3 separate regions of the Homo sapiens genome follow, and regions 2 and 3 are each linked to region 1. The links come from fine-mapping of genetic effects on gene expression. A gene starts in region 1. Each other region holds a variant in brackets. All regions are shown on one strand. Distances are from middle to middle. Region 1 holds the start of PRR5L (proline rich 5 like). Region 2 overlaps PRR5L (proline rich 5 like). Region 3 overlaps PRR5L (proline rich 5 like).

Region 1 (5,223 bases):
TGGGACTACAAGCATGCACAACCATACCCAGCTAATTTGATTTTATTTGTTTTAGAGACAAAAAATATGTTTTGTCTCTAAAACATATGTTTGCTATGTTGCTCAGGCTGGTCTCAAACTCCTGGCCTCAAACGATCCTCCTGCCTCAGCCTTCTGAGTAGCTGGGATTACAGATGGGAGCCACTGCATCTGGCTCTGCCTTTTTGATTATAGTGATCCTAGTGGGTATGAAGTAGTATCTCATTGTGAGCCGTCTTGTTTTGAAGTTGCATTGGTATATCAAACACATTTTGTAACTGGTTCTGTCTTTTTGATTATAGCAATCTTAGCGGGTATGAAGTGGTATCTCATTGTGAGCAGTCTTGTTTTTAAGGTGCATTTGCATAGCAAACACATTTTGTCACTTACGCTACTTTGGTTCATTTGAGGTAACTGATGAAGGTTATGGAAGCTTAAATAAACTCCTATTCTCCCCTTTGGTTTCACTACTAAGTCCTGGCTGCCTTCTTTGTCAGAGGAATGCCTGCAGGAGGTGGATTAGGCCCAGGGTCCTGCAGTCCTTTAAGGAGAGCCCTTGCCACCCTCCTGTTATTCCCCTAGTTTCCCTTTTCCTCACCTTTGTCTCAGTCCAGAGATGAGGGTGGGTTGCAGGGGGAAAGGGCTGATCAATCTTTTTGACTTTATGCCCCCTTTGTGGCTTTGACGTGGCCTGATCAGCTCACCAGTCGTCTTAGTCCATATGGGCTAATATAACAAAATACCATAAACTGGGTGGCTTTATCAACAACAGAAATGTGTTGCTCATAGTTCTGGAGGCTGGGAAGTCCAAGACCAAGGCATTGGCAGATTCTATGTTTGATGAGGACGGTTTCCTGGTTCACAGATGGTGTCTTCTCACTGTGTCCTCAAATGGTGGCTGTGGGCAAGGGAGCTCTCTTGGGCCTCTTTATAAGGGCACTAATCCCATTCATGAGGGCTCCACACTCATGACCTAATCACCCCCCATAGGTCCCACCTCCAAATACCATCACCTGGGGGTGAAGATTTCAGCATATGAATTTGTGGGGGACGCATACACTCAGACCGTAGCGCAAGTTGGGGACAAAAGCTCTGAGTGTCAGCAGGGTTGCACTGGCTTGGAAATGCTGGAAATCTGGAAATTTCCAGATCAGGCATCACAAACTGCATGATCTAGGGCTCACATTGCATTAACAATGTTGTGTTTGGTCCACAGTGTTTCAAAATTGGAAAACTCGACATAAAAAATCCAGCCTTCTGGCTTTTCTTTAAAAATGTGCAGGCCCAACCATGCTGTTTCCACCTTTCTGCATTGCAGTATTTGGCTGAGGCTGAGCCCTGGCTGCCCTCTGAAGACTGGTGTGAGCTTTCAAATCCCCACAGTTCCCGCCACACACTGTTGCATCACAGTGGGCCCTCTCCACACATTTGTCACCTGTCTCATACTTGAGAATATTTATTAGTGCCCAATTCCTTCAGGGACCTAACAGGGTGAACTTAGGCCATAGTAGGTAACAGGGCTAAATACAGACACTTGGGATCCTGGCTTTCCAGCCATCCCCATACCATCTCCTCATGAGTACAAGCAAGTTTCAGGTGTAATGTGGGCATCTAATTTGTGATTTGTGGTTCTTGATCACTTTTATGGGCCAGCCACTGTTCTAAGAGTTTTGCATATATTAATTCATTTAATCCTCCTAGGAACCCAATCATAATCCCGGTTTACAGATGGGAAAACTAACACCCAGAGAAAACACTTGCTCACAGTCCATGGGTAATAGTTGCAGAGTCAGAATTTGAAGTCAGGAGCGAATGAGGTCATTTTGCAAGGTTGCTCATGACCTAGTGTCTGGTTCATTATGGGGGTTCAGTGGGTGCAAGCTTTATAATATTCATCTAGTCTTGCCAACTGCTGCTAACGTGCTGCATGGCTGAGGTTTAGTCCCAGCCAGATGTCCCATCACAAAAGTTAGGCATTGAAGTGGATGACATTTGTGTTTAGAGAAATGATATGTCTCATTCTTTTCAGCTCTAACTTGGGGTAAGTTTCTGAAAGCAAGTAAGAGAAAAGGAGAGGGACATTTGTGATCTCTCATGTATAGAAGACTAACAAAGAGGCAGGTGGTCACACCTGAAGGCACGTCCCCTGACCCTTATTACATAATGCCATGGGCTAAATGTCCAAAATTCCTCTCCCAGCTCTGATTGGCCTGGCTACTATGATGAGTGAAGTCCACCAGGGAAGACACTGTGGCCTCGTTTCTCATCCTCCTGTCCCCAGGAGTAACACAGAAGCAGCTAGTAACACAACAGCATTGTCCTCACATACACAGGCCTGCTTTGTTTCCCCACCACACAGAGCAGCCGCTGTAACAATGGCCCCGAATGACACTTTACCCTCCTTTCTCCAATGTTGCACTTGTTTTTTTAGTCTGGAATGGGCTAAACAATGATTTCCTGCAGGGGGTATCAGCTTTTTATATTTTCTGCCTGCTTCTCTGTCAGTCTTCAGGCCCCAGGTCAGTGAGTGGCAAGCCAGGCCCAGAGATCTCTGCGCCCGTTGGAACATCCCCTTCTCGGGAGGCTGGAAGGCCATGGTCATTCACCTCTCCCCAGCAAGGTGGGACCTGCCCTGGAAGAAGAAACCAGACCAGGTAACACAAGAGAGACAATGAGAGCTTGGGGCTAGGGGGTGGGGTTGCAGGGGATGGCTGAGTATCCAGCCCAAGGAGGATGGGTTTCTGGCTTCAAGACATCCGATTTTCTTGAAAGCCACCATCTGCTGTTAAATAAATAATGAAAAGCAACAGAGGTCAAGTTCAGCAGCCTCCCAGTTAGAAAAATACCCTCTGTCTGTCTGGCCCTGTTCAGTGCCTCTGATATCTCTGGGTGACCAGGGTCTTCATGGCCCATGTAGATTTACTGAGGTGGCTGTTGCCTTAATAATAGCTGCTAGTACTAAGCTCTTTCTCTATGTATTGCATATGTATACCTATTACTGTATGTCTCTCATTGAATGAATAGTAATGATAGCAAACCCTTATACAACATGCCTCAGATTCTTGCTTCTTTCAAACCCAGGGAGTCGGGTTCTAGAATCTGCGCTTTTCGTCATCATGCCCCTTGTAAAGCATTTTTTTTTACAACATCCTGCTAATAAACCAAGGTCATCACAATATTTCACTTTGAGAGGCAATGATATATGATGATAGCTATGTGTATTGTGAGTCCTTTGCCCTGTGCCAGGCAGCATTCTAACTGTTTTGCAGCTATTTCATCAGATAGATACTTTATGATCTCTATTTTATGGATGAGGAAATTGAAGTACGGATAATTTAAGTCATTCACCCGGGGTCACACAGTTGTTAAATGGCAGAGCCTGGATTTGAATTCAGTTTTCTCTTAAGTAGTATGGGAATCTTAGACCCGCCCAGCCCTGCTGGTCTGGAGTTATTCTGCTTCTCTAGGTCATGGTGTATAGAGGGTGACATTCAGTTTCTGGCTTCATAGAACATCTGCACCCAAGTTGACAGCTTAAGGAATTTTTTCGTTTGTTTATTTTAAATGATTTTTCTATTGGCATCAGCTTTTGTCTTGCTTGAAGAAGATGGAATTGCTCAATGACGACAGTGAAGGAATTTGAAAGGGTAAGAATTGCTCAATGAGTGGTATCTCTTTTTTGGCCAGAGACCAGGCTAAGTTGCCTCATATGTAAGAGAACATACGTCAAATACACAGGACTCATGGTATATTATGGAAGCAAACTTTATTTTTGCCTATCATTGTCCCTAATTTTTTTCAGCAGGTCCTCCCTCTTCCCTTGCCCTGGGATGAAAATTAAGGTAGGTCCACAACTCTTATGGGCCCCCTTCAGGAATCAAAAGTTCTTAAGTCGCTTTTAGTTCCAGCACAGCCTCATTCAGCAATTGGGATGTCCAGTCCCAGGGAATCAGCCAGATCTTTGAATTTGGTTCCCAGTGGAGACTTTTCTCCCTCCTCCAGTGGGGCCTGCAGCTTGGAAAGGGGGTCTGTGGTTGGCTTCTCATTTCCCACGTTAAGCTTCCATCCTTCTCTCCTCTGGCTTACTGATGATTCTGACTCCTGGCAGGGGGAAGGGGAAAAGAGAAGAGGCAGGAAAGGAGCTGGAAGTCCGTACTTGGTTAATGCTGTGGCAAGCTGGCATTTCAGTGGCAGGTTCTGGTGGGTGTGTAAACCTAGTTCTTTCTCTCTAGGCACAATCTTGTGGATACTTCAGAGAGCACCATTATTTCTCATCTTTGGGGATCTCTGAGTTGCTGGTCCCTTGAAGCTGGTTGCCTAATAAGACTCCTTCCTTAGTTCCCTGGCATCTAAGCAGTGCCGTATTAGTTTGCTGGGACTGCCATGACAAAATATCACAGACTGAGGGGCTTAAACCAGCAGTCCCCAATTTTTTTGGTACCAGAGACCAGTTTTGTAGATGACACTTTTTTCCACAGACCAGGGTAGGGATGGTTTCAGGATGATTCAAGTGCATTACATTTATTGAGAACCTTATTTATATTATTATTACATTGTAATATATAATGAAATAATTACACAATTCACCACAGTGTAGAATCAGTGGGAGCCCTAAACTTGTTTTCCTCCAATTAGACAGTCCCATATGGGGGTGATGGGAACCAGTGACAGATCATCAGGCATTAGATTCTCATAAGGAGCATGCAAACTAGACCCCTCACATGCGCAGTTCACAATAGGGTTTGTGCTCCTATGAGAATCTAATGCTGCTGCTGATCTGACAGGAGGTGGAGCTCAGGTGGTAATGTGAATGATTGGGAGCAGCTGTAAATATGGATGAAGCTTCGTGCTCTCTCTGTCCCTGCTGTGTGGCCTGGTTCCTAACAGACCACAGACCAGTACTGGTCCATGGCCCGGGAGTTGGGGGCCCCGGGCTTAAACAACAGAACTTAATTTTCTCCCAGTTCTGGAGGTTAAAAGTCCAAGATCAAGGTGTTGGAAGGTTTGTTTTCTCCTGAGGTCTCTGTCCTTGGCTTGTGGATGGCCACCTTCTCACTGAGTTCTCACATGGTCTTTCCTCTGTGTGTGCATTCCTGGTGTCTCTTGGCATGTGCAAATGTCCTCTTCTTATAAGGACAGCAGTCAGAGAGGATTAAGGCCTACCCTAAGGGGTTCATTTTAACTTAATCACATTTTTAAAGGTCC
Region 2 (5,223 bases), 110 kb after region 1:
GAAAATGCTAGGTGCCTTTCTCCTCCATCAACACATTCAACCCTCCCCACAGCCCTTTGTTATGAGTAGTTGATAAATGAGAAAATCATGCATTAGAGAAATTAAATAAAAGTCACACAGCAATGAGCAGTGGCAAAAGGATTTGAACTCCTTTCTGACTTAGATACCTGTAGTAGTCTACCGGGGCTGCCATAACAAATACCATAGACTGGATGACTTAAACAACAAAAATTTATTTCTCAATGTCCTGGAGGCTGGGAAGTCCAAGATCAAGGTGCCGGTCATTTACATTCCTGGTGATGGCCCTCTTCCCGACTGGAAGATGTGTACTGTGTGTACACATGACCTCTTTTGTACTTGATGGGGAGAGAGAGCTCTCTGATGTCCCTTATAAGGACACTAATCATGTGGGCCCTACTCTTATGACCTCATCTAAACCCAAGTATCTCTCAAAGGCCCATCTCCAAATCCCATCAAATTGGGGGTTAAGGCTTTGACATATAAATTTTGGGGGGACTCATAGCAACACCTTTGTTCTTTGCACTATATTGTAGTGTCAGAAAGAGAGGTCTTATGTTGGGAGAAGGATTAAGTTGATGGTTCCTGATCTTTTTTTTTTTGCCATCGTTCCTTTCCCGAGGTCTCTGTGAGCCCATCTCTTATCACATCCTGTGACTAACACTCATCATGAGGAGCATGACACTCCCCCAGCCCTCCTTTCCAGTGTTGGGGTTAGGGCTGCTAGATGTTCCTCTGTGTCTTGACTGATTTTTCAGACTAGTGGGAAATACATATGGTTGAGGTTTGAAACTATGTGCCCAGATATAAATTGAGCCCAGAATAAGCCAAAGCTTAAAAAAAAAATCAGAGCTTTCCTTCCCCATGTTTCTGTACCTTACATTCTAGCCACACTATTTTAGAGAAGGCCAGAGGATGGAGATAGGCTTTCACATCAGAGACACAGAATATAACTGAAGATGTGAAGTATCTCCCAGGCATTGACGTGACCTGGATGTCTCAAGTTGAATGAAGCTAGCCCTCCCACATCAGCAAGTGCCTGTGTGGAGGTAAACACAGCTGCCTTTATTCCAGCATCTTAAACACTGAAATAGGCTGCTCTCTGGTTACATTCAAGTAGACACTTGGGTTTTGATTTTCCTTTTGGAAGACTTGTTTGCAGAACAGATCTATCAACTCAACATGGTTGAGGCAGGATTGGTGGAGAGGGTGGGGCACAGGATGGTAGGGATGTCAGAAAGAGATGTGCAAACAGAGAAGCCTCAGTTCTTCAGCCCATTTTTCAGTTGTGACAGTCCTGTTATATGCAAGAGGGTTTGTGCTAAGTTTAATGGAAATTTTTAACCAAAGAGAGCAGTTTCTGGATTCAGAGAGACCAGGGATCAAGACTGGGCTAGCTGTGTGACCTTGGGCAAGTGACTTCATTTTTCTAAGTCTGTTTTGTCTTTTATGAAATGAGGATAATAATAGCACTAACCTCATGGTCATTGGGAGGATTGAGATAATGCTAAAAGCATCCTTAGCACAGGGTCTGGTAATTTAATAAAGGTTTAATAAATATTAGCCATATGATTCTTATTACTGTGAACAGTTAAGAAATAGTAAAGTGATACATAATGGGTGAGTACGAGGCATGAGAACACAGGCCAACGTGATGAATTGCCCCATGAATAGTGCTGTGTATAACCCTCTCCAGGCCAGGTGTCATGCTCCCACCTGTAATCCCAGCTCTTTGGGAGGCTGAGGCAGGAGGATCGCTTGAGTCCAAGTGTTTGAGACCAGCTTTAATGAAACCCCAGTTTCTACAAAAAATACAAATAAAATGAAAAGCTGGGCGTGATGATGCATACTGCACTCCAGCCTGGGCAACAGAGCAAGATCCTGTCTCAGAAAAAACTTCTCCAGCAGTTTGGATGAGGTGAGCTCACTTTGAACTAGAGAGTCTGGGACAGAATCCTCAAAGAGTGGTGCCTGGAGTTGAAGTTTGGGTGAGGCTAAGTTCTTACAAGGAGAGCCAGCTGTTTCTCCTTTCCACAGAGAAAAGAACAAGAGGAAATGACTTTTTCAGTTCTCCATTCTACTGAACCCAAATGGTAATAAACTTTTTGATGGAGTATCCAAGTCTGGAGTCAAAGCCTAAATCAGATTCTTTGGGTCACTCATCCCAGCCACCCTGGCCACTTTCTATCTGTAGGGTTAGTATGTACCTGGGAAATACAAATTTATTTAAATAGTAGCCAATGCAAAGGATGACTAGGAAGGTAGATGTTTTATGTAACTGAGTCTTGTAATGCAGTCATTATTATAAGTGGCCTTTCCATTTAAGACATGTCTTTGAAAATAGACTCTAGTTTAAATGTTAGCAGATAGACTTTGAAGTAATTATGAGGAAGAACTTGGGACTGAGGATGGTCAAATTCTAAAACACAGTATTGGATCCAAAGACAGGTTTCTCCACCCTTTAAGAATAAATCTGTCAGGCCAGGTGCGGTGGCTCACCCCGTAGTCCCAGAACTTTGAGAGGCCAAGGCAGGTGGATCACCTGAGGTCAGGAGTTTGAGACCAGCCTGGCCAGCATGGCAAAACCCTGACTCTACTAAAAATACAAAAATTAGCCAGGTGTGGTGGTGTGCGCCTGTAATCCCAGCCAGCTATTTTTGGGAGGCTGAGGCAGGAGAATCGCTTGAACCTGGGAGACAGAGGTTGCAGTGAGCCAAGATCGTGCCACACTGCACTCCAGCCTGGGGGACAGAGAGAGAATTTGTCTCAAAAAAAAAAAAAATCCATCAGAAACGTCTCACCTCAATATAGCGGCCAATGTTGTCCCATGTAAAAGTCAGGGCACATGGTCTATTGATATGAAAACCATAAATCAGAATATTTCCCATTGAAACTGCCTTAGGCACAGCTTGCACATTGTAATATCTCTCAAGGCAAGAAAATGACCTTTCAGAATAGACGTATTCTAGCTAAATCCCCAGGCATCCCAATCAACAATTCTGGCTTCCCTAAATTTCCATCTGCCAGAGTTCGGGCTGATTCTGGGAGTCTTCTTGTTTTGAATTCTCAATGGGGTGTTAGTGCGGTTTTTAACACCCCTCTCCAGCCTCACCCCTGATGTGGCTGCATTTTGGCAGCGAGGAAAAGTCTGGGTTAGAGGTTTGGGTTTCATGAGCCCTTCCAAGAACAAGAGCAGCTAAGCTGACACAAGAGCACACTCTCCCTAAACAGTCTTTTCTGCCA[C/A]CTCTCCCACTGATTTTATGTAACCGAGAAGAATTAGAAAAGTGTGAAAAAAGCAAGACTGATGTTTGCTGGTTCTTTGAAGAACCTGCTTGCCAATGTTCTTATAAGTGCTTTCAGTCTTTGAGTGTTGGGGTGTGTGTGTCGAAGCAGGGGCCATTGATTCATTGATTTATTTATTGAATAAATGTGGAGTGCTCTGCCCAGTACTGGGCTGTATACTGGGGTGGTCATTGAGTAGGTGGTTTGTGTCTTGGAGATCTTACAGCAGAATGAGAGAGGAACTGGGCAGGTAGTTCTCAGGCAACGCTTTTAGAGGGGTGATGGTGGAATCTGGAGTGCTGGGGGCATGTGGAGGATGGGCACACAATTAGACCTAGGAGAAAATGATATCCAAGTTGAAATCAGAAGTGGGAGCAGGCAGAAAGGGCAGTTGAGGATCTAACGTTCTTGCCACCACCACTCACTCCATGCCCTCCTGCCTCCTCAAACTCCCTGGGAGGACTTTTTCTCGGCAGAAATAAATGCTCAGAGATGAAGTTTCCGGAAACCAGAGATCAGTTATCTGCAGCCGGCCTGAGACAGGAAACGCACATTTTCCTTCTCTCTCCAACCACCCTGCTTCTGTTCTTGTTGGGAGGGGGGAGGTGGTGTGAAGAAAACCCCAGAGATTTTCAAGGAAAGAGGAGGTTCCAAGAATTGTGTTTGATCTCTGACAGGTCTGAGTTGAAATATCTTCCTTCTGAGTCAGTTGGTTGCCTGAAACCCAAAGGGAAATCCACCTCCGATTTTTCCATCTCTTTAACAGAGTGTTGACTGTAAGAGAGGGGGACCCACAGTAGGGGGGAAGAGCTGGGAGGGGACGGGAGGAAGGTGAGCCTGGATCCAGCTCACAGGCTGATGCCATAGACCAGTCCCAGGCCTGATGCCACGAGGTAATGATAACTGCAGACACTTGCTTAGCCTTTTAGTATATGCCAGGTTCCAAGTGCTTCATATGTGTCAACTCTTTTAAAACTCCCCACACCCTGTGAGATAGATACTGTATCCCTGTCTTACAAGGAGGAAGTACAGATACAGAGAGGTGGAATAACTCACCCAGAGTCATGTAGCCAGTAAGTGCCTGAGCTGGGATTTGAACCCAAGCCTCCCACATGCTTAAACCCTTAGTAAGTGGGCTGCAAGAGCCACACAGAGCTGGCATTATCCAGATTTGGGCTTGATGTACCTGGACATAGGTTCATGAATAGATCATGAGGTAAGGGGGGCATTGCCCTTCTGAGGAGCCTAGTTTTGGAGGGATTAAGATGAGGGCTCTTCTTGGTCTGGGTGACTCTGCCTGATGATGTGTTACTACCTTGTACCTGCTGTGGCTGAGAAACAGACTTGGCTTTCAGGTTAAGAAGGGTTGTTAGAAATGGCAGATTGGAAACCCATGGGGTTGGCGCATGTGGTTTGGCCTAAAAGTTGTTTAGAAATCTGGACATCTCACCTAGAACTCCAGGTTTCCGGCCTCTCTGGAAAGGTCAGATCTGGGCACTGGACTCACGGTCTGGTGTGGAGCCTGTCAGGGGAGCTGAGGCCTGGCTGCTGGCTTTAGAGGGACTTTCTTGGTCCTTACAGTACACACTCACTTGCCTCCCTTCTTTGCCTGCCTGCCCCTGTGGCATGGGGGGTACCACTGCCTGATTAGGTTGGCCTCCATTTGAGTTGGGATCTACCAATGTATGGCCCCTGGCAAAGCTCTGAGCATCGATCTTATCTGCAAAATGAGGATACACTCCTACCTGTGAGGCTGTTGGAGAATTTGAGATTCTGTGTGCAGACTGCCGAGCATAGTGTGCCACATAACTAGGAGCTCAATAAATGCTCTTCGTCAGTTTCCTCCATGTTTCTCACTATTCCCACTGCCACCCACTAGGATGCCGACACCCGAAGGGTGTGAGTACTCCATGTCCTGAGTCA
Region 3 (5,223 bases), 160 kb after region 1:
CATCCTGACTGAGGACACTGCTTTCCAGATAAAGAGAGGTCTCTCAGGGCCTCCGTCTACCCCTTAGTAAAAGGTTTATTTTGCCTGTGGGAGGAGAGCATTGAGATCGCTGGCTGAAGTAAAAACTAAGGAGTTGGGTTGGGGGTGATAAACCCCTTTACCTATGGGAGGGCTTTGCCGTGGCTCACTTGGGCCGGAGGATAGGTAGGCGTGGTCGTAGGCAGCGGAGGGTGTGGGGGCCACTCATCCCTTCAGAAGCCACCACTCACGCTGGATTACTGACCAGGGTTTTGGCGCGTAACTCATTCCATCCTCCAAGGTACTGTTGTGCTTTCAGTCTCCAGGTCACCCGCAGGGTAGGTGACCAGAGCCAGAGAAGCGGTTTATTCCCGGGGCTCCGCACTGCACCCACGCGCCCGCGCCTGTGTTTGACTGCACGAGGATTCTCCGGAGGTGTCCCTTCCTGCCAGCCAGGCCTCACCCCTGGGTACGCATAGGTCAGAGGCCCACGATGAGAGTGAGAGAGAACGTGCCGCTCTCTCCAAAGCAGCCACTTTTCTGCAACAGTGGGAGTTGCTGAGGGAGGAGGAAGAGGATAGTGAAACTTTTTTTTAAAAGGCCGACTCCTCAGAGGCTGGCCTTTGCCCCATCTTTCAAGTCCCCGAAGTCTCCAGGCTGTTTCCCTGATGTTTGCAGGGCCCTCCCGAGCACACACTCAGCAGCACGCTCGACTTCTCCCACACAAAGGCCCTGGCCTCCCACAGGCCTCCCTCCATTGTGTCTGCCTGGGGGAGGGCCCTTCTCCTTCAGGATACTGTAGCTTCTCTGCGTGACAAGCCAGCATTCACGGCTTTCAGGTGCCAGCCTGGAGAGGGACACCCACCACGGGCTTGGTGTGCTGGGGTCACAATGGCCTTATTATGGCGGTCGCTCCGGTGGGGCCTGGCCAGGGAGCCTGGGAGATCAAAAGCCTGGGAACCAAGTCCCCAACAAAGGACCCGAGGACGGCCTTATCCAGGCTTTGCATCTCTCTGGGGGTTTGAAAGGAGCTGCTCTTGCTGGCTCCGGTGCAGGGGATGAATGCCAGTGAATGCCAGTGTTCAGCAGGGCTCCTGGTGAGTGAGGAGGGAATAAAGCCTCCCCTTGGCCTCACCCCGTGTGAAAGGGAAGAGGAGGAGGCAGAGGTGGCCTGGAGATGCCAGCTGAAATGGCAGGACCCGGCCCTCTTCCCGCTAAAAGGGCACCACTGCAAGGGAAGGGCTGGTTTGGAGCCCCAGGGGGTACCCACAGGGTAATCAGTCCCTTAGTGGGAGATTCCCTTCCCTGGGTGACAGGGCCCTGCCTTCCCGGGAGCAGAGAAGAAAAAGATTGGGGAGGAGAACAAGAAGCAAGAGTGTCGGTCGCTGTCTGCCAGCCCCGGGCCTGGCGTTCAGTTTTAAGGCCTCCCAAGGGGCCCAGCAGGCCTGACCTCCCAGTGGGGACACAGCTGACGCACTTGTCTGAGGCTTGGCTCTGGAGTCTGGCGGGAACTTAGCAAGGAAACGCTGTCTGCCCGGGGGACTCAACACAGCCTTGCGGTCCCTGTGGTCCTGGCTCTGCCCACACCCAATCTTGGGAATGAAAACATTCCACCCAGAAAGTAGAAGGAAGAGCTGTAGCCTCTCCTGTGAGTCATCAGCAGGGGGAGAGAGGCTGAGGCAGCTGTGGAGAGAGCAGGGCCTTGGAAACCACGAGAGCTGGGGCTCAGCTGTGTGGCCTGGAGCAACTTCTGAGCCACAGAGGGCTGAGCACAGAGGCCCTGTCCTTCCATTCAGGATCAGCAGGAGGAAGAAGCTGCCCTGTCTCAGGTAAGGGCCAGGTAGAGCTGCCTGCTATGTTATGGACGCCCAGCTAAAGGTGGCCTGGCGTCCGTGGAATCACTCCCCGGGGAGGTTGTGTGTACCTCCCCAATCCCTCCCCTGGATCCCAAACCACATCCTTGGCCTTGCCTTGCTGTATTGCCATGTCCTATTTCTCAGCCTCTCCCTTACACTGAGCTTGCTCGTTGAGAGCAGGGATTTTGTATCCCAGGACCTGGCACAGACCTCTCCTGTGAGTGAGTGGTTCAGTCTGTAAGTCAAGCCTAGAGAAGCACAGCCCATCTGAAATAGGCTTTGTGACTTCTCTTCCTTCTCCTCTGAATTTCCAGGGTGCTGTCGTCTCTATCTCTGACCTGACATTTGCCACACTGACCTGTTCTAACAGTTATTTGTGTATGTGGGTCACAAGCTGGGCCTGTGCTGTCAGCTCTGGGTTTGAGTCCTGGTTTCATCACTAACTATGACTGTTGTTATTCCACATCTCAACTTCAGGTTCTTCTGC[G/A]AAGTGGTTAGAAGCCATCAGTGGAGCACCTCCTTTTTGGTACAGTACCTAGCATATCATGGATGCTTAGTAAATAGTTCCTCCTAAGAACTCGTGCCCCTGACATGTGAACATACATGCATGGAGGTACACAAGTGTGCTGGGCTCAAGCCCCTGTTGGGGGCCCCACATCAGATTTATGTTTCTTTTCTTCTCTGCAGCTAGTGCAGCATTTTGCATGTACAGGTAGTAGTGTTTGTTGAAGGTGGGGACAGGTGGTGTTGTGGTCTCCTCCTCCAGGGCAGCCCCCCTCTGGCTCCAGCTCTTGGCCTGTGAGCAGCCAGAGTGGCTTCTCTTGTCCATTTGCTGCCTGGGCCCTCCAAGGATCACTGGAGACACCTTTCCCTGGCTCATCCCAGTGGGCTGGGACCTGCGGAAATCATCTGACGAATTCTCATTTCCTACAAAGATGCTGCATGTGTCTGCCAAGCAAGTTGATTTCCTGTTCTCTCGATTTACCCTCTGTCTTCTCTGGTCCCAGCCTTTCTTCCAAGTTTCAGCCATGTTATAAAATCTAACATTAATACTGTATCTTTCCAGATACCCCTTCCCCAAAGAGAGGAGTCTCCCATACTCTTATAAAACATTATCGAGGCCGGGCACAGTGGCTCATGCCTGTAATCCCAGCACTTTGGGAGGCCAAGGCAGGCAGATCATGAGGTCAGGAATTCGAGACCATCCTGGCTAACACGGTGAAACCCTGTCTCTGCTAAAAATACAAAAAATTAGCTGGGTGTGGTGGTGGGCACCTGTAGTCCCAGCTACTCTGGAGGCTGAGGCAGGAGAATGGCGTGAACCCAGTAGGCAGCGCTTGTAGTGAGCCAAGTTCGCGCCACTGCACTCCAGCCTGGGCAACAGAGTGAGACTCCGTCTCAAAAAAAAAAAAAACAAAACAAAAAACAAAACAAAACATCGAAATCTCTAGCAACATTAGAAATAATGTCACTACTGTCTACCTCTTTGACCCTCCCCTTTGCACAAACCCCTCCTGGCAGGTAGGTACCCAGTCTCAGAGGCCCAGACATCTGCATGAAGCAAATGCTCCCTAAACAGGTCTCGTCCTGTCTCCTGCTAGACTGGTTGTAGGGTTCAGGTCCCCACATGGGTTTCCCAACAGCAATCTGAAGTGTGTACTTCTATCAGCAGTGAGAGAGAAATGAATTGTTCTCAAGGGCATTTTTTTTAAGGACAGTTTTTCAATGGGATCCTTGCTGCTCTGAACTCTTCTGGTGCTTCTGTTTTATAGTTATTGATTTTGGAGATCATAAAAGTAATACAGGTATTATAAGAATGTGGGAACATTATAGAAATGTGTAACTTGGAGAGTACGAGCATCCATGCTTCAGAAAGAACCGCTGCCAATGCCTGGTGTATTCTTGGTTGCTCCTTGGCGTTTTGTCTCTTATCTCCAAAGAGGGGCGCCAGTGTCAGCTTCTTGTGTAGCATCTGCTGGGGGGCAGTGTTTGCTATTACTTGACTTCAGTGGGTGGGCTGCTTCAAGGAACATGTCTTCTGAGGGCAGCAGCAGTCACCTGAGACACAGCAGCGTGTAGTGGGGAAAGTCTGGGCACTGCCATCTAGAACCCAAGAGAAACGGGGCTGAGCCTCAGTCTTCCTCATCTGTGCAGTGGGCATACTAAGAACAACTCTGTTTTGGAGGGAGATTGGGACTAAACAGCGAGATCATGGGTGGGAACACACTCTACACTCTAAATTCTATGTAATATCCTTTGATTTTGAAAAATTGTTATTGTCACCACCAAATAGGCCCCTTGGGCTTCTGAGCCAGTAGACTCAAGATTTAGTCCAAAGGTTTAGAATTTCATTCTCTTCATTATTTATACACACACACAACAGTCCGATGACGGGAGCTGCTGTGAGCTTTGCAGATGGATGTAGGCAGGTCTTGCTGTGATCTCCTTCCAGGAGCATTGGCTCTAGAAGTGGCTGACACACGTGTCTAGGGCCCTCCAGATCCACTGGAAGAGCAGAGAGTAAACTAAAGCAGCATGAGCCACGTGTCCCCATGGGCCAGTCTGTGAACAGCATGGTTTGCTTTCCTCTTGGAAAGTGGGGTGTTCCCCCTCCTGTCCAAGTGTGGTGGAAATACTGATACCATTGGGCCCCACTCCCTTTCTCCCCACAGCATTGTCCTGCCTGGCTGGCAGAGGGAACACCTTTCTCTTGGGTCTTCAGGGTGTCAGAGATATGGGCACTGTGGAAGGCAGAGACAGGTGAAATGGTGTATGTGACTGGGAAGCTGGGAAGAGGTGTGCTCTGGCAGAAAAGGAGGCTGAAAAGAAGAGGAGGCCCAGAACAGAATCCACCCATCCCCCAGCCCTTTGAAGCTGTGTTTCTCCCATGGCCGTGCCTTCAAATTTACTCTCTCCCAGGCCAGACCGGTTGCAGTGGCTGGACCATCCCACGCCTCTGCCTCTCTCAGGTCCAGAGCCGCTCAGCTCGTGACATGATACCAGGCCTAGGTGGCAGAGGAGGCAGCACTGCCTCAAGAGGAGCATGAGTTGGGGGACTTCTCTGGGACCAAGGGACCCAGCCTTGTCATGGTGCTTACTCTATTCCAAACTCTGTGCATGTTTCTGCCCTAGCGCAGCCCATGTGAAGGTGGGAGAGCAGAGGCCCTGGGAGCTGGGGTGCTGCTGTCAGATTTGCTTCCTCTCTTGGGACTCTACTCCCGAGGCTTCAGTTATCTGAGTTTTTTGGTTCTTCTCCTGCCTCTCTGACCCACCCTAGGGTTTCCTTCCTTCTGGAAAGGCAATGGGGCTTACCCGGTTTTTGGAGGCTGCCATCTGTGCTCCAGTCCCA

The links.
Region 2: its variant is fine-mapped to the expression of PRR5L in whole blood (INTERVAL, PIP above 0.99).
Region 3: its variant is fine-mapped to the expression of PRR5L in whole blood (TOPMed, PIP 0.98).

Annotation. Positions count from the first base shown.
Region 1 is chr11:36,293,767-36,298,989 of GRCh38, forward strand. It overlaps PRR5L (proline rich 5 like), which reads left to right and starts at 2,522. Exons shown (of 9, transcript NM_001160167.2): 1 at 2,522-2,672.
Region 2 is chr11:36,405,496-36,410,718 of GRCh38, forward strand. The region is part of intron 3 of PRR5L (proline rich 5 like); the gene reads left to right. Among named protein-coding and RNA genes, the nearest start is that of TRAF6, 100 kb to the right of the region's middle. The variant C/A (reference allele first, on the strand shown) is at 3,262.
Region 3 is chr11:36,454,332-36,459,554 of GRCh38, forward strand. All of the region lies in intron 8 of PRR5L (proline rich 5 like), which reads left to right. Among named protein-coding and RNA genes, the nearest start is that of TRAF6, 53 kb to the right of the region's middle. RefSeq lists an enhancer at 920-1,444. The variant G/A (reference allele first, on the strand shown) is at 2,362.